Linked DNA regions of Homo sapiens. The protein of the gene in region 1 interacts with the protein of each later gene in a pairwise test. Each region holds a gene or a part of one and is shown on either strand. Other genes may lie near its edges.

The links.
Region 2: the proteins of SEC14L4 (region 1) and BMF interact in binary tests that used the Homo sapiens proteins (3 or more experiments, as listed by UniProt).

Annotation. Positions count from the first base shown.
Region 1 is NC_000022.11:30,502,674-30,510,509, reverse strand, and holds the start of SEC14L4 (SEC14-like protein 4), read left to right. Parts: upstream 1-4,814; 5' UTR 4,815-4,898; coding exon 4,899-4,952; intron 4,953-6,757; coding exon 6,758-6,833; intron 6,834-7,836. UniProt on the Homo sapiens protein: Probable hydrophobic ligand-binding protein; may play a role in the transport of hydrophobic ligands like tocopherol, squalene and phospholipids.
Region 2 is NC_000015.10:40,098,880-40,106,144, reverse strand, and holds part of BMF (bcl-2-modifying factor), read left to right. Parts: intron 1-53; 5' UTR 54-58; coding exon 59-350; intron 351-1,804; coding exon 1,805-1,965; intron 1,966-7,265. UniProt on the Homo sapiens protein: May play a role in apoptosis. Isoform 1 seems to be the main initiator.

The DNA.
Region 1 (7,836 bases):
TTAATGTCTCCATTTCACCAACTTCTAACTGACTTTATTATTTTCTTTCTTTTTGTGACAGGGTCTCCCTCTGTCACTCAGACTGGAGTGCAGTGTCACAATCATAGCTCACTGCAGCCTCCACCTTCTGGGCTCAAGTGATCCTCCCTCCTCAGCCTCCCAAGTAGCTGGGACTACAGGAGCATGCCACCACGCCTGGCTAGTTTTTTAATTTTTTGTAGAGACGAGGTCCCACTATGTTGCCTGGACTGGTCTCGAACTCTTGGCTTCAAGAGATCTTCCCAAAGTACTGGGATCACAAGTGTTAGCCACTGTGCCTGGCCTATTATCTGAGTAGCTGGGACTACAGTCTCACCCCACCACACCCAGCTAATTTTGTAGTTTTTTCTTAAAAGGTGTGTGTGTGTCTGTGTGTGTGTGTTGTTTGTTTTTGCTGATTTTTCAGAGAAAAATGCATCTCATTACTTGAATACACATTTCATTGATGACTCTGGAGATTGGGCATTCATCCACTTGATAAATACACCCTGAGCATTTTCATTCCTAAGAATTGGTGCTTTGAATCCTTTGCCCATTTATTTCTTAGGGCCTTCCTATTTTTCTTATCAACTTGAATTTTTGTACATTTTATTTTTCCCAAATTTCCATCAGCAAATACTGACAAATGTCTTTTTTTTTTTTTTTTTGAGATGGAGTCTAGCTCTGTCGTCCAGGCTGGAGTGCAGTGGCATGATCTCAGCTCACTGCAACCTCTGCCTCCCAGGTTCAAGTGATTCTCCTGTCTCAGCCTCCCGAGTAGCTGGGATTATAGGCACCTACCACCATGCGCAGCTGATTTTTGTATTTTTCGTAGAGACGGGGTTTCACTGTGTTGGCCAGGCTGGTCTTGAACTCCTGATCTCCTGATCCGCCCGCCTCAGTCTCCCAAAGTTTGGGATTACAAGCGTGAGCCACAGCGCCCGACTCTGATAAATGTCTTAATTCTGTTTCTTGTTTAATAGATTTTTGTATTTTGTAGTCAAATCAATTCATTTTCCCTTTGTGATTCTGTCATTGTTTTTAAACACAGACCATGCCCTTCCAGAGATGTGGTGTCACTTTTACTTTCTTTTAGCATTTTTTATGATTTACTTTCTTTTTCTAAAAACATATTTTAAATCTCTATAGGGCAAACAATGTTCAAATTAAATATAATGCAAGTCATAAATGTGATCCATAAATGTAATTTTATTTTATTTATTATTATTATTATTTTTTGAGACCGAATCTCACTCTGTCACCCAGGCTGGAGTGCAGTGGCATGATCTCAGCTCACTGCAACCCCCGTCTCTGCCTCCTGGGTTCAAGTGATTCTCCTGTCTCAGCCTCCTGAGTAGCTGGGATTACATGCGCACAGCATCATGCCTGGCAAATTTTTGTGTTTTTAGTAGAGACGGGGTTTTACTATGTTACCCAGGCTGGTCTCAAACTGCTGGGCTCAAGCGATCCGCCCACCTCAGCCTCTCAAAGTGCTGGGATTACAGGTGTGAGCCACCATGCCCAGCCCATACGTGTAATTTTAAATCTTTCCAGTGGCTACTTTTTTTTTTTTGAGATGGAGTCTTGCTCTGTCTCCCAGGCTAGAATGTGATGGCGCAATCTCAGATCACCGGAACCTCCGCCTCCCGGGTTCAGTGATTCTCCTACCTCAGCCTCCCGAGTAGCTGGGATTACAGACGTGCACCACCATGCCCAGGTAATCTTTGTAGTTTTAGTAGAGACAGGGTTTCGCCGTGTTGGCCAGGCTGGTCTCAAACTCCTGACCTCAGGTGATCCACCCGCCTTAGCCTCCCAAAGTGCTGGGATTACAGACGTGAGCCACCACGCCCAGCCCCAGTGGCTACATTTTTTTTTTTTTTAAGTAAAAAGGATAGGTAGGAGCACAGAGGATTTTTAGGGCAGTGAAACTATTCTGCGTGATACCACAATGGTGGACACATGTCATTATACATTTGTCAAAACCCATAGAATATCCAACACCAAGAATGAGCCCTAATGTAAACTAGGAACTTTGGGTGATATTAGCGTGTCAGTGTAGGCTCATCAATTTCAGCAAATGGATATCTCTGGAACCAGAGGTTGTGTGTGTATGGGGACAGCAGATATGTGGGAACTCTGTACTTTCTGCCCAGTTTTGATGTGAACTTAAAACTGTCCTAAAAAATAACAATTTAGCTGGGCACTGTGGCTCATGCCTATAATCCCAGGACTTTGGGAGGCTGAGGCGGGAGGATCGCTTGAGCTCGGGAGTTTGAGACCAGCCTAGGCAGCATGGCAAAACCATGTTTTGTATTTTTCTTCAAAAAAATACAAAAATTAGCCGGATGTGGAGATGCACATCTGCAGTCCCTGCTACTGGGGAGGCTGAGGTGGGAGCACTGCTTGAGCTTCAGGGGTGGGGGGCGGTGGAGCTTGCAGTGAGCGGAGATTTTGCCACTGCACTCCAGCCTGGGTGACACATTGAGACCCTGTCTTAAAAAAAGAAAAAAAATTATCATTATAAATAATTCAAAATTATTAAAACATCAAAAGAAACAGGTGAAAGTAATATTAATAACATATTTTATTGTCCTATTATATTCAAAAATATCACTTAATATATAATCATTTATATAAAATTAATTAATGAGGCTAGGAGCAGTGGCACACGCTTGTAATACCAGCAATTTGGGAGGCTGAAGCAGATGGATGGCTTGAGCTCAGGAGTTTGAGACCAGCCTGGCTAACATAGCAAAACCCTGTGTCTATAAAAAAATAAAAATAAAAATAAAAATAAATTAGCCGGGTGTGGTGGGGTGAGAATGTAGTCCCAGCTACTCAGGAGGCTGAGGTGGGAGGATCACTTGAGCCCGTGAGGTCAAGGCTGCAGTGAGCCATGATTGCACCACTGCACTCCAACCTGGGTGACAGAGTGAGATGCTGTCTCAGTACATAAATAAATAAAATTAGTTAATGAAACATTTTACTTTTTCTGGTACTAAGCCATCAAAACTTGGTTTGTATTTTACAATTACAGCATGTCTCTATGCTTGTTATGACAAGCCACGTTGTCTGGGCTCAAAAGCCTCTGTGGCTCACGGCCACTGGGTTAGTCCTTTCGGGACTAGAGCTTGGTTTGATTCCATGGGAGGACAGAGGGAACAGGGTCTTGTGGCCTGTTTTACTCTCTCCTTCATCTTCACGTCCCCTCTACTCCTCTCTTGAAAATTCACACCCAGCCAACTTCTGTTTTCTTTTTTTGAGACAGAATCTGGCTCTGTCGCCCAGGCTGGAATGCAGTGGTGCCATCTTGGCTCATTGCACCCTCAACCTCCCAGGTTCAAGCAATTCTTGTGCCTCAGCCTCCTGAGTAGCTGGAACTACAGGCGTGGACGACCACACCCAGCTAATTTTTGTATTTTTAGTAGAGACAGGGTTTCACCATGTTGGCCAGGATGGTCTCAAACTCCTGACCTCAAGTGATCCGCCTGCCTTGGCCTCCCAAAGTGCCAGGTGCCAGGATTGCAAGCATGAGCCACCGCGCCTGGCTGAACTTTTTTCTTGCTTTTCCTAGTGATCTCCGCCTGGCTCTCTTGTGTCAGCCAGAGTGGCCTTTTGGCTCTCCGCCCACTCTGTCACTCTGCCCAGGGCTTCCATTGGTCCACGGCTGGCACCTTGCATGCCTCCACCTTCAGACTGTGGCTCTCACCCAGGAGCTCCGCACTTGGGACACCCTAGGATCTCCACCCCTGCAGCTCCCAGCTCTGGTGACAGCCTCAGTAATAACACAATTCTGAAATATATTCCTACCAGCCAGCACTTACTGAGCAGGCAACGCCAGACATTCTGCTGACCCAGGGTGCGTCCTCTTATCCTTCCAACCATCTTGAGGGCAGGAACCATTTTGCACATGAGGCTGTCCTATCAGTCAGTGAGCACTGACAGGTCCCAGGCTGTGTTCAAGGTCAGGGGAAGGAGCTTGGGGGTCATTAGACAAAAGCCCTGGGGGTCCTAGAGGGTTGAGCCAGGTTTATTAAAAATTCCTCCATGTTGGCCAGGTATGGTGGTTCACATCCCTAATCCCAGCACTTTGGGTGGCGGAGGTTGGAGGATTGCTTGAGGCCAGGAGGTCCAGACCAGCCTGGTCAGCATAGCAAAACCCGGTCTCTATTTTATTCAAAATAAGAAAAAGAAAAAAAAAATTTTTTTTTTTTTTGAGACGGAGTCTCACTCTGTCACCCAGGCTGGAGTGCAGTGGCGCGATCTCGGCTCACTGCAAGCTCCGCTTCCCGGGTTCACGCCATTCTCCTGCCTCAGCCTCCCGAGTAGCTGGGACTACAGGCGCCCGCCACCACGCCCAGCTAATTTTTTGTATTTTCAGTAGAGACGGGTTTTCACCATGTTAGCCAGGATGGTCTCGATCTCCTCCTGACCTCGTGATCCGCCCGCCTCGGCCTCCCAAAGTGCTGGGATTACAGGCGTGAGCCACCGCGCCTGGCCCAAAAAAAAAAAAACATTTAAAAAAAAATTTCCTCCATTTTGCTGGAAAGAGGATCTCAGTGTATTCCCTTTCCTGCCACCTGCGAACAGGCGGGAGCCCCCGCAGTAAGGAGGCCTGGAGGTGGCTGCCTCCAGCTGCCCCAGGCCACTCTCCCGGCAGGTCACCTCCCTGTCCCAAGTAGGGTGCGCTTGGTGACCGCAGCAAAAAATCCTGGAGAGGAGGAGAGAACTGGGCGGGGCGGGGCAGGCCCAGTGCCTCTCCCGTCGGGGCGGGACCAACATCTGGCCCAGGAGGCACAACCAGGCGGCAGCGGATACAAGGCCAGGCGGCGGCGGGCGGGCGGACCTGCGCCCTGAGCCTTTCTGCGCCCGCGGGCACCATGAGCAGCCGAGTCGGGGACCTGAGCCCCCAGCAGCAGGAAGCGCTGGCCAGGGTGAGGAGCATCGCGGGCTGGGAGGCTTGAGGAGGGGCCCTGAGCAGCCTGGCACTGCCCAACCCGGCTGGAGCCCCCATGGTACAGACTGGAACACCGAGCCTGGAGAGAGCGCCTCTGTTCTGCCCTCTGGTCCAGCGTGCGGTTGTTGAGGCGGCTACGTGCAGCACGCGGGACAGGGGCCCATCTCTGCGTGACCAGGAGCCGAATCCAGTCTTCTGACCTTGCGTGCTCTCCACCACCCGGCCCTGGTCCTTGTTCCCCGGTTGTGGGGGAGGGAGTGGCGCTGCCATCCGGCTGCGGGGGCAGCCTTGGGTAGACAGACTGCTTTTCATGTCCAGGTTGCAACATTTGTTTGTTTGGCTTCTCTTTGTGATTTGTTCTTAGGGCCCAAGCTTCTCTGTAATCTTTTTTTTTTTTTTTTTTGAGATGGAGTCTTGCTCTGTCGTCCAGGCTGGAGTGTAATGGCGCAATCTCGGTTCACTGCAACCTCCACCTCCTGAGTTCAAGCGATTCTCCTGCCTCAGCCTCCCAAGTAGCTGGGGCTACAGGTGCCCGCCACCACACCCGACTAATTTTTGTATTTTTAGTAGAGACGGGGTTTCACCATATTGGCCAGGCAGGTCTCTTGGACAGGCTGGTCTCGAACTCCTGACCTTGTGATCCATCCGCCTTGGCCTCCCAAAGTGCTGGGATTACAGGTGTGAGCCACTGCGCCCGGCCTCATATTTCTAATCCCAAATTTGGATTCACAGATTCACCTTCAAACCCAGCCTTTGCCTTCAGCTCTGTTGGTCCCCAGGGAAGTGAGATCTCCTCTCTCTCAGACGCAACAGATGCCCTGATAAGGCATTCCTGGCTTCTCTTTCAGCCCCTGTCTGTTGACCTCTGCCTCTGTTTTTTTTCCACAAAGCCTCCATTGTCCGGGGCATCAGGCAGTCCACGCTGGCTGAGTGCTCACATATATCTGACACCTGCTCGGAGCCAAGCCTGCTAAGTGTTTTACGTGCACAGACTCCTTTGATTGGTACAAGTTTATTTTTATCCCCATTTCAGAGATAAGGAAACTGAGGCTTAGAGAGGTTTGGTAACTTGCCTCTAAATCTAAACCCTCAAGATGCAGTATCAGGGACAACATTCCTAAAACCGCCTAGCTGGCCTGCATCAGACTCTCCCAGGGATCCTTGTAGAAATAAGGCTGTCAGTCGGGCATGGTGGCTCACGCCTGTGATCCCAGCACTTTGGGATACTAAGGCGGGTGGATTGTTTGAGCCAAGGAGTTTGAGACCAGCCTGGGCAACATAGCAAGATCCCATCTCTACAAAAAGTACAAAAATTAGCTGGGCATCTTGTGTGCCTGTGGTCCCAGCTACTTGGGAGTCTGAGCTGGGAGGATCTATTGAACCCGGGAGGCACGGGTTGCAGTGAGCCAAGATCACGCAACTACGCTCCAGCTTGGGCGATAGAGTGAGATCCTGTTTCAATAATAATAATAATAATAATAATAATATAAAAATAATAATAAAATAAAAATTAAAAATAAGGATGCCAGGGCCCCACCTTAGACATGTAGAATGGGAGTCCAGTGTGTAGGGCACTCCCAAATTTTGGGAAGGACCCAACTCTTTTTCCTATGTTGGGCTGGAGGGTGCCCTATTTTCAGATGGCAAAGTCGTTCAGGGCAGCACCCTGCATGGTCTTCTGGTGGAGTTGACTGGTGGATGATGTGGGAAGGGTTAGGGGCGGGGTTGGTGGCCCCCGAGGTCATGAGAGCTCCGCCGACCATCAGATCCTCCTCCGCTCAGTTCCGGGAGAACCTCCAGGACCTGCTGCCCATACTGCCCAATGCTGATGACTACTTCCTCCTGCGCTGGCTGCGAGGTGAGGCTTGCAGGGGTCAGGGGACGCAGAAAGGGAGGGAAGGAAGGAGGGTCTCAGGAGAGGAGTGGGAGACTTTGAGGGAATGGAGCTGTAGGGTAGTAAAGAACACAGGCTTGCCGGGCCCGGTGGCTCACACCTGTAATCCCAGCACTTTGGGAGGCCGAGGCAGGCAGATCACCTGAGGTCGGGAGTTCGAGACCAGCCTGACCAACATGGGGAAACCCTGTCTCTACTAAAAATACAAAATTAGCTGGCTTGGTGGCACATGCCTGTAATCTCAGCTACTCAGGAGGCTGAGGCAGGAGAATCGCTTGAACCCGGGAGGCAGAGGTTGCGGTAAGCCGAGATCCCGCCATTGCACTCCAGCCTGGGCATCAAGAGTGAAGCTCCGTCTCAAAAAAAAAAAAACAAAAAAACAAAAAACACAGGGTCTGGAATCAGCCTGCTCTGACTAGAATCTGAGCTCCCCTGTGTATGAGCACAGCACAAAACCCCACTGAGCCTCAGTTTCTTCATCTGTCAAGCAAGGATGAGGCAACAGGTGGGCACAGAGTCCAGGTGAGGTTACAGTTAACAGCCAGGACATCCTCAGGCCTCTGGCCTGGCCAGCCCTTGGGGCAGATGTTGCAGAGCACTGTTTTCAGTACTTGCCTTTGGGTGTACCTCCAGTTCCCCGAGGACAGGGCTCTGTTGTCCCCTAAAGGAACCGAGGTGCCCTAGTGCACTGAGCAGGTGCCCAGCAAACACTTAAGGAAGTGGATTTAGCGAATGCTAGAGAAGCAGTTTCTTCTAGGAATTACAGCAGCAGTCTAAAAAAATAATAACAAGCCAGATGCGATGGCTCACACTTATAGTCCCAGTGCTTTGGGAGGCTGAGGCAGGCAGATTTCTTGAGCTCAGGAGTTCAAGACCAGCCTGGGCAACATGGCGAAACCTCATCTCTACAAAAAATACAAAAATTAGCCGGGTGAGCTGCCGAGCACCTGTAATCCCAGCTACTCAG
Region 2 (7,265 bases), on another chromosome or scaffold:
AGGTATGGCCCTGGTGGGGCAGCAGCCCAGATGCCTGCGTTGCCCCCTCACAGGAGAGATGGAGCCATCTCAGTGTGTGGAGGAGCTGGAGGATGATGTGTTCCAACCAGAGGATGGGGAGCCGGTGACCCAACCCGGGAGCTTGCTCTCTGCTGACCTGTTTGCCCAGAGCCTACTGGACTGCCCCCTCAGCCGACTTCAGCTCTTCCCTCTCACCCACTGCTGTGGCCCTGGCCTTCGACCCACCAGCCAGGAAGACAAAGCTACCCAGACTCTCAGCCCAGCCTCCCCCAGCCAAGGTGTCATGCTGCCTTGTGGGGTGACTGAGGAACCCCAGCGACTCTTTTATGGTGAGTGCTCTCAGCCTCAAGACTCCTCCCATAGAGACTGGGGGAAAAGAGGGGACTTTCCCTCCCCAAACCTGCCCTTTGCTGTTTCCTTCCCCCAAAGTGATCAGCGGGGCTGTTGATTCCTTGACTTCCACCTGCTGCCTCTCGGCTTGTTATTGCTCCTCACCTGTGCCTCAGACCCCCCAAAGGGCAAATTGTCCCCTCCTGGAGGGATCCTTGGGTCCATGGTATCTCCTTTTACATCTTGTGCCCCTTGAGTGGCCTGGCCTTTAGTGTCCTAGCAGTGACTTGCCTACTATAAAGTGGCTCCTGTTGCCCTGGAGAAGTCTGGGGGATCTGTGACTGGCTGTTGACAATGAAGGGAAAAACCCAGCCGGTTCTGGGAGGGAGGGTTCCCAAAGGCAGAAGGTGGCCCCCAGTTGCCACATGGGACTTTCTGTGTGTGAAAGGGGAACTGGAGAAAGAGGTTGGGCCTGCCTGGGCCCAATGCCAGGAGAGGGGATGCTTCCAAGGCTAAGACAAGACCCCTTCATTTGTGGGCTTAAATAGTTTGTTTTATGAGAAATATGCCCTCCTCTGGCAAAAGGGCAGGGTTAGACAGTCTGTTTTCTTCTATTAGCACTGCAGCTTATGGAGGGAGGGTAAAGGCTAGGAGCGTGGCTTACTGTGTCTGACGAGCTGATTGAGGAGACACTGCAGTTACTCCCAGAGGGAACTGCCCCTTAGGGCAGTTCTGGCAAAGCAGTTCTGGCGGGAGTCTGAGAAGTTGGATAAGGCGGGCAGGCGGGGAAGAGGGAAAGGAGCGAGGAGCCCGGCGGACTGGCGCCCCTAGCGGTGGTTCTAACGCGTGCACTGGGTAAGTGTGGAGCGCTGGTCTAGAGGTCTTGCCTGGGGCTGTCTCCGGAGAGCAACTTGGCAGCTCTGTGCGTCTCAGTTTTCTCTCCCTCTTTTTGTGCTGCTGCCCAGGAGCTTCGGGAGACCAGCCTTACTCTACTGCACTAAAAAAGTGAAGACACTTTTTGATTTTTTCTTGCTCTGCCTCTTACTTTGCTCAACCCAGAAACTGGAGAGCTACCTCCAGTGCTTTTCCAGAGAAGAGCTTCAACCTGCTACTACGTGAATAACCAACTGTGGTTAAGGGTAGCTTGATAAATAAGGACGGAAGGCTGGCATGTTCGCCTGCACACGTTACCACCTGCCCTTTGTCATGGCACTGTCAGTGAATGGAGAAGCGAAGAGAAGGCTGGGGCCATTCTTTCTGTTCTGCAACTTTTATGCACTTGGGCAGCAGGCTGTCCAAGCTTGGCAGAGTGCTCCAATAGAGGCAGGCTGGCTCCTATCCTTTCTCATATGAGGATTTACCCTCAGCCTCCAATCTTGGCCAGGTCAGGCAGGCGTAGGGAGGTTGGAGCAGTTGTGGAGAATGCTGAGATGTGGATCCTCTATCTTTGCAGGCAATGCTGGCTATCGGCTTCCTCTCCCTGCCAGTTTCCCAGCAGTCTTGCCCATTGGGGAGCAGCCCCCCGAAGGGCAGTGGCAACATCAAGCAGAGGTACAGATTGCCCGAAAGCTTCAGTGCATTGCAGACCAGTTCCACCGGCTTCATGTGCAGCAAGTAGGCACGGGGGTTTAGGGGAGGAGGGTTGAGTCTGCTGGGGCTTGGGGGCCAGGGCCTGCCTCTCTCCTCTTGTCAGCAACTCTGTCTCTGCCAGACCTCAAGGATATTGTCCCAGAGTTTTGGTTATGGCGGTTCCCATGGGCAGGAGGGGCCTAACTGGCTAAGCATCTTGCCCTCATCTCTGAGCTCCACATTGGTTAACTGCCCAGTCTCAATTCATGTTCCATAAGAGCCCTCTCGGGAGAGGCTACAGTCTGGGAATAGGATGGCTTTCTGCAGCTCTGCTTGACAACCTGTCTCTTCTTATGGCCGTGGCTGAGGGGTTGCCCCTCACGGACCTAAGAGGAAGATTTTCCGGGTGCTGCAATGAAACTGGGCAGTTGGGGGGTGCCTGGCTAAGGTACAGTGGGAAACGGGTAACCAGGCCAAGGGATGGGGCCTGAGTTGGGGAAAGTGGTGGAACCGGTTGAAACCTGACACTTTCCAGCTGGGGAGGCCGCTCCTCACTGTCTCTGTCTGGGAACCAGGGTCTGGGACTCCGGAGAGTGTACCTCGGAGAGGCTCCCCAGACCGGCGGCCAGCCGGGCGCTCAGCCGGGCGCTTGGCCGGCAGCCTGGCACCAGCCCCGCCAGGGCGGGGCATCACGTGTCAGCCGAGCATGTGGCAGAGTCCATCAACAAAGGCGGCGGCTGGCAGGCTCGTGCTGGAGGAGCCCTCTGTGCCATGGCCTGGAGGCTGCCTTCCCTGTTCCAGCAGCCGCTGTCTGGGCTGGGTCCCCAGGCACTTAACCCTTCCTCTTCGGGCTGGCTTTCTGGATGGCTGCCAAGGCTGGGAGAGGAGCCTGAGGCTGCATCCGTGCTGGTACAGCCACAGCTGAAGCACAGGCATGCCACCTGGAAGCGAACACATTCTGTACTTCTGGGACTGTGTCCCCAGCCCAGCTGGCTCTGAATGTGTGTTTGTGTGTCTGACTGCGAGGAAATCAAGGGAATAAATAGCTTGACCATGACTGGGCAGACTCCGAGGTTAGAAGGGTAGCTTCAGGTGGTCGGAGGAGAGCTATTGGTAGGTTGACTTAAGGGTCAAACCATTACCAGTGCCAGGGGAAGAGGAATTGACCTTGGCTTTCCTAAGAACAGGACATTGCGGGTTACATATGGTTAGTGCCCTCTGCCAAGGAGTTCTAAGGACAGTTTGGGGCCAGGTCTGGGCCTGGTAAGTCCTCCCAGTCCCTTAGTGATCAGGAAGGGAGGGTGGCCCTATGCTTAGATAATAGATCTAAGCTCCAGTTCTTACTCTCTCCTTTGATTATTTGGTGGAAACTTGGCTTCGAGTTTCCCCTTCAGTCCATGTGTGGACTCACTCTGATTCTTGTTTTCAGTTTCTTGGCCTCCTTCCTGCCCATTCACTCCACCGTGGTTGTACAGGCCTACGGCTGAGCCCAGCTCACAGCTTCCAGTCCTGGTACTGGAGAGGATGGGAGGACACAGTGGCTGTGGCTCTTTTAGACTCATCTAGCGGGCTCCGTGGAAGGCAGCTTGCTTCATTTGCAATAATCTGATCTCTTTCACCAGTTATTCCCCAGAATATTCCCCCATCCACTGGTGAGCCTCTATAGGCTTGGGAATAGGCCGGGAGCCCTCCCTGGCACAGGACTAGGATACAGTCCTGGGGGCCCTCCTAACTTGGTCCTGAACAGGAGGAGGAGGAGGCCCTTATCCCAAGGTCTGGCCCTGATTTTTTTTTTTTTTTTTTTTTTTGGCTCTTTCGCCCAGGCTGGAGTGCAGTGGCATGATCTCGGCTCACTGCAACCTCTGCCTCCCCAGTTCAAGCGATTCTCCTGCCTCAGCCTCCCGAGTAGCTGGGATTATAGGCACGCACCACCACACCTGGCTAATTTTTGTACTTTTAGTGGAGACGGGGTTTCGCCATGTCAGCCAGGCTGGTCTCGAACTCCTGACCTCAGATGATCCACCTGCCTCGGCCTCCCAAAGTGCTGGGACTACAGGCGTGAGCCACTGCGCCTGCCTTGCCCTGCTTTTTGCTGGTTGGCATCACTTCTCCCAGTTCAGAGCTGCCTCTTTGCATGCACAGGTTAGTTTTAGACAAGGTGTTGTGCTTTTAGCCAGAGCCACCCAAGCTGGGGAGAAGGAAAGTGGAGGTGCAAGGCATGAGAGTCTCCTCTGCCTTGCACCTTACTCCACACTGGCTCCCAGGTTTCCTGTACCCCTACCCTCCTGCCATCTACCTACTTCTTACTTACAAGGGTAGGAGGCTGACCAGTGAGCCTTTTCTAGCTCAAAGAGCTGGTTTTCCCAAATTTTCCAGTACAAAGAGCCAGGGTTTTGTCTTCTCCTTAAACAGTTCTCCCCAGAGTCTTCTTGCTTTTAACCCCCTCCTCCCCACTGACCCTACTTATAGACCTTCACCAGGAACTCATCCTGCAGGAAGGGCTAAGGTGATGGCTTCAGGCAGGTGGAACACTGGTACTCCTGGAACGTTTCAGCAGCTGGTTTTGAGAAGTGAGTCATTTTCTAAGCTTGATTCTTATATAAACTACAGTCTAAGATTTCATATCTAGAAAGTACTGTTGTCACTCCTCCATTCTTATCCTTTATCTTCTTTCCCTATTCCCTTCCCTCATTTTTGCAGGCAGAGAAACTGAGGCAGTGGGAAGGAGGTTATTTAGGATTTAGTTTCTAGGCTTTGGGTTCAGAGTCAGAAAGCCCAGGTTTGAATACCAGCTCTGCCATCTACTAGTTTTCAGGAAGTCACTTGACTTCACTGAGCCTATTTCCTCTTCTATGAATTAGTGCTAATACCACAGAATTTTACTGTGATAATTAAGTGAGAAAATACCTATGAGAGTTTGGGACACACAGTAGATGTTCTTTAATGCCTGTTTCCTTCTTTCTGTTTATGATCCTGATCACCCCCGACGTTTGTTCTTGTTGGTTCACAATTCATTTCCCACTCCACCTGGCAGGGGACTCCCTGAGCAGAGCTGCCTCCCCTGAACTTCCCTCCACCTGCCTGGTCCAGAGGAATTAGTGTCCAGACTGATCATCTGTGGACCTTGGCCTTATCGATTTCTCTTCAGGGAATGATAGTCATTCCCCATCATTGCGGGCTGGATTTAGAGAGCCAAGAAAAGCAACCCTAGAGGCAGATGGGACTTGAGGAGGCCTGACCGTCACCTTTCCCCTACATCTGGGATAGTGTCCTGGGGCTAGACAGTGGCCACTGGTCCATAGTCCTGTGGAGAGTGTGCACTCCCCCTTTTTGTCCCTGGTTACAGACCTGAGTTACTCGTTTTTTTGCACCAGAACGACCTTCTCCCTTGGAGGTATGGAGCAGAGGGAGGGGGCGTGCTGATGCCATGAAATCCCAATTGAGTGTATCGACCTGGCTCCAGATGCAACAGGTTCCAAGTTTCCCTGGGTGTCGTTTTACGTGGGCCATCTGCACTTTCAGCGCATTTCCCAAGAGCCTTGCTAGGTGGAGGACTAGCCTGGTCACCCGAGTTACCAGTTCAGGGTGACTCTTCCAGATCCACAGGCAAAAAACCGGAGGCAGAAGATCAGAGTTAGCAGGGTGCTCCGCCTCAGCTCTTTGTGTCTCCAAAGCAGCAAGAGAGTTGGAGGCAGAGTGAGTGGAGGTAAAAACCTTTCAGAACCTCACCACACATCCCACCTTCCTTTGGCCGGGGCAGGAGTGAAGGTTCCCCTGTTTGCTCCTCTGTGAGCTGACAAACTGTGGCAGGGACCCCCGATGGTCTGCTGATAATGACTTATCTTGAGGGTGGTGCTGTGGTGCTTCTGTGTCCAGCTTCTGCATGGAAGAGCATGGTGCAGATGTACTTCCTCCCTGAGCCCCTGGGCTGCCCTGGCCAGAAGGTCTGAGCCCCAGCTTTCCTGTCCTTGTGCCATGGCCTCATTCAGCACGAGCCTAAGGAGGGGCAGGAAGTGGTATCCCCTCCCCTTGGGAGAGTCTTCTGTCCCAGTGGCCCATCATGACATTTGGGGGTATTTCTGGGCAATGTTAAGAAGCCAAGAATCCTCAAAAACAGTAGTTACTGTAAACAGTCGAGTGAGTAAAGCTACAGGAGGGTTGGAATTCTTCATGTTGGAAATGGCTTTTTCACTTGGACCAGGAGTGGCTCCATTCAGAAAAGCCGGGTTTGGAAATCTCTGAATAGTAATTAGACTTTTTGGCAAATGAAATCTGAGAAAACTTTCAGCCACTCAGTTGAAACCATCTTTAGCTGTAATATCACAAAAAGGATCCTAGACTTGTAGGCAGATCTGTTAAAATCCCAGCTCTGCCACTTATAAGTTATGTGTTCGTGGGCAAATCATGTAATCTCTCCAAGCCTTTTTTTTTTTTTTTTTTTTTTGGTGAGACAGCGTTTCGTTCTTCTTGCCAAGCTGGAGTACAGTGGTGCGATCTCGGCTCACTGCAACCTCTGCCTCCGGGTTCAAGTGATTGTCCTGCCTCAGCCTCCTGAGTAGCTGGAATTACAGGCATGCACCACCATGCCTGGCTAATTTTTGTATTTTTAGTAGAGACGGGGTTTCTCCATGTCGGTCAGGCTTGTCTTGAACTCGCGACCTCAGGCGATCCGCCCATCTCGGCCTCCCAAAGTGCTGGGATTACAGGTGTGAGCCACTGCACCCGGCTTAGTCTTGGTTTCTAATACTTACCTTGCCTAGTTGATGTGAAGGGCCTTTAGGAGTTGTGATACAAATAACTATTAAGTCAGGGACAGTTGAGTACTTTTAGAAATATGTTAAAAGATGACTTTAGGATTTTGCTTGGACCTGACTTTGTAATTTGGGGAGCTCTTTTGGAAGTTGTACCCGAGTTGGTGTTTGCATGGTTTATTAACTAGCAGCTTCTCTGCCTAGCAGACTGGATCCTTTGTTCAGGGAGCCCCTGATTGCTTCCTGACACTTTGGGATTCTCTAGTTATTAGTGAGTGGTTTTCTGGAACTTAAGCTGGCTAACTAGGTTGCTCAGCGTCTAGATGGGACAGCCCCGGGCAGGGGCCCCAGAGGTTTGCTATAGAGTGAGATGGGTCCCTAGGAAGCCAGCCTCTGTCCCAGGAGTGGGAGGCCCACCTAGGACAGTGCCAGGGGAAGAATGAGGCTGGGGGAGGGACTGCGGAGAGCCAGAGTGCGTGAGAGCCAGCGCCGGGGCTGGGGGCCCTGTGTTTGCTCTGTGGCTGGCTCTGTTTATATCGCTCGCTATATTTAGCTTCTGAGTCATCAGCGTGGCAGACTAGAGGCTGAGTTCCC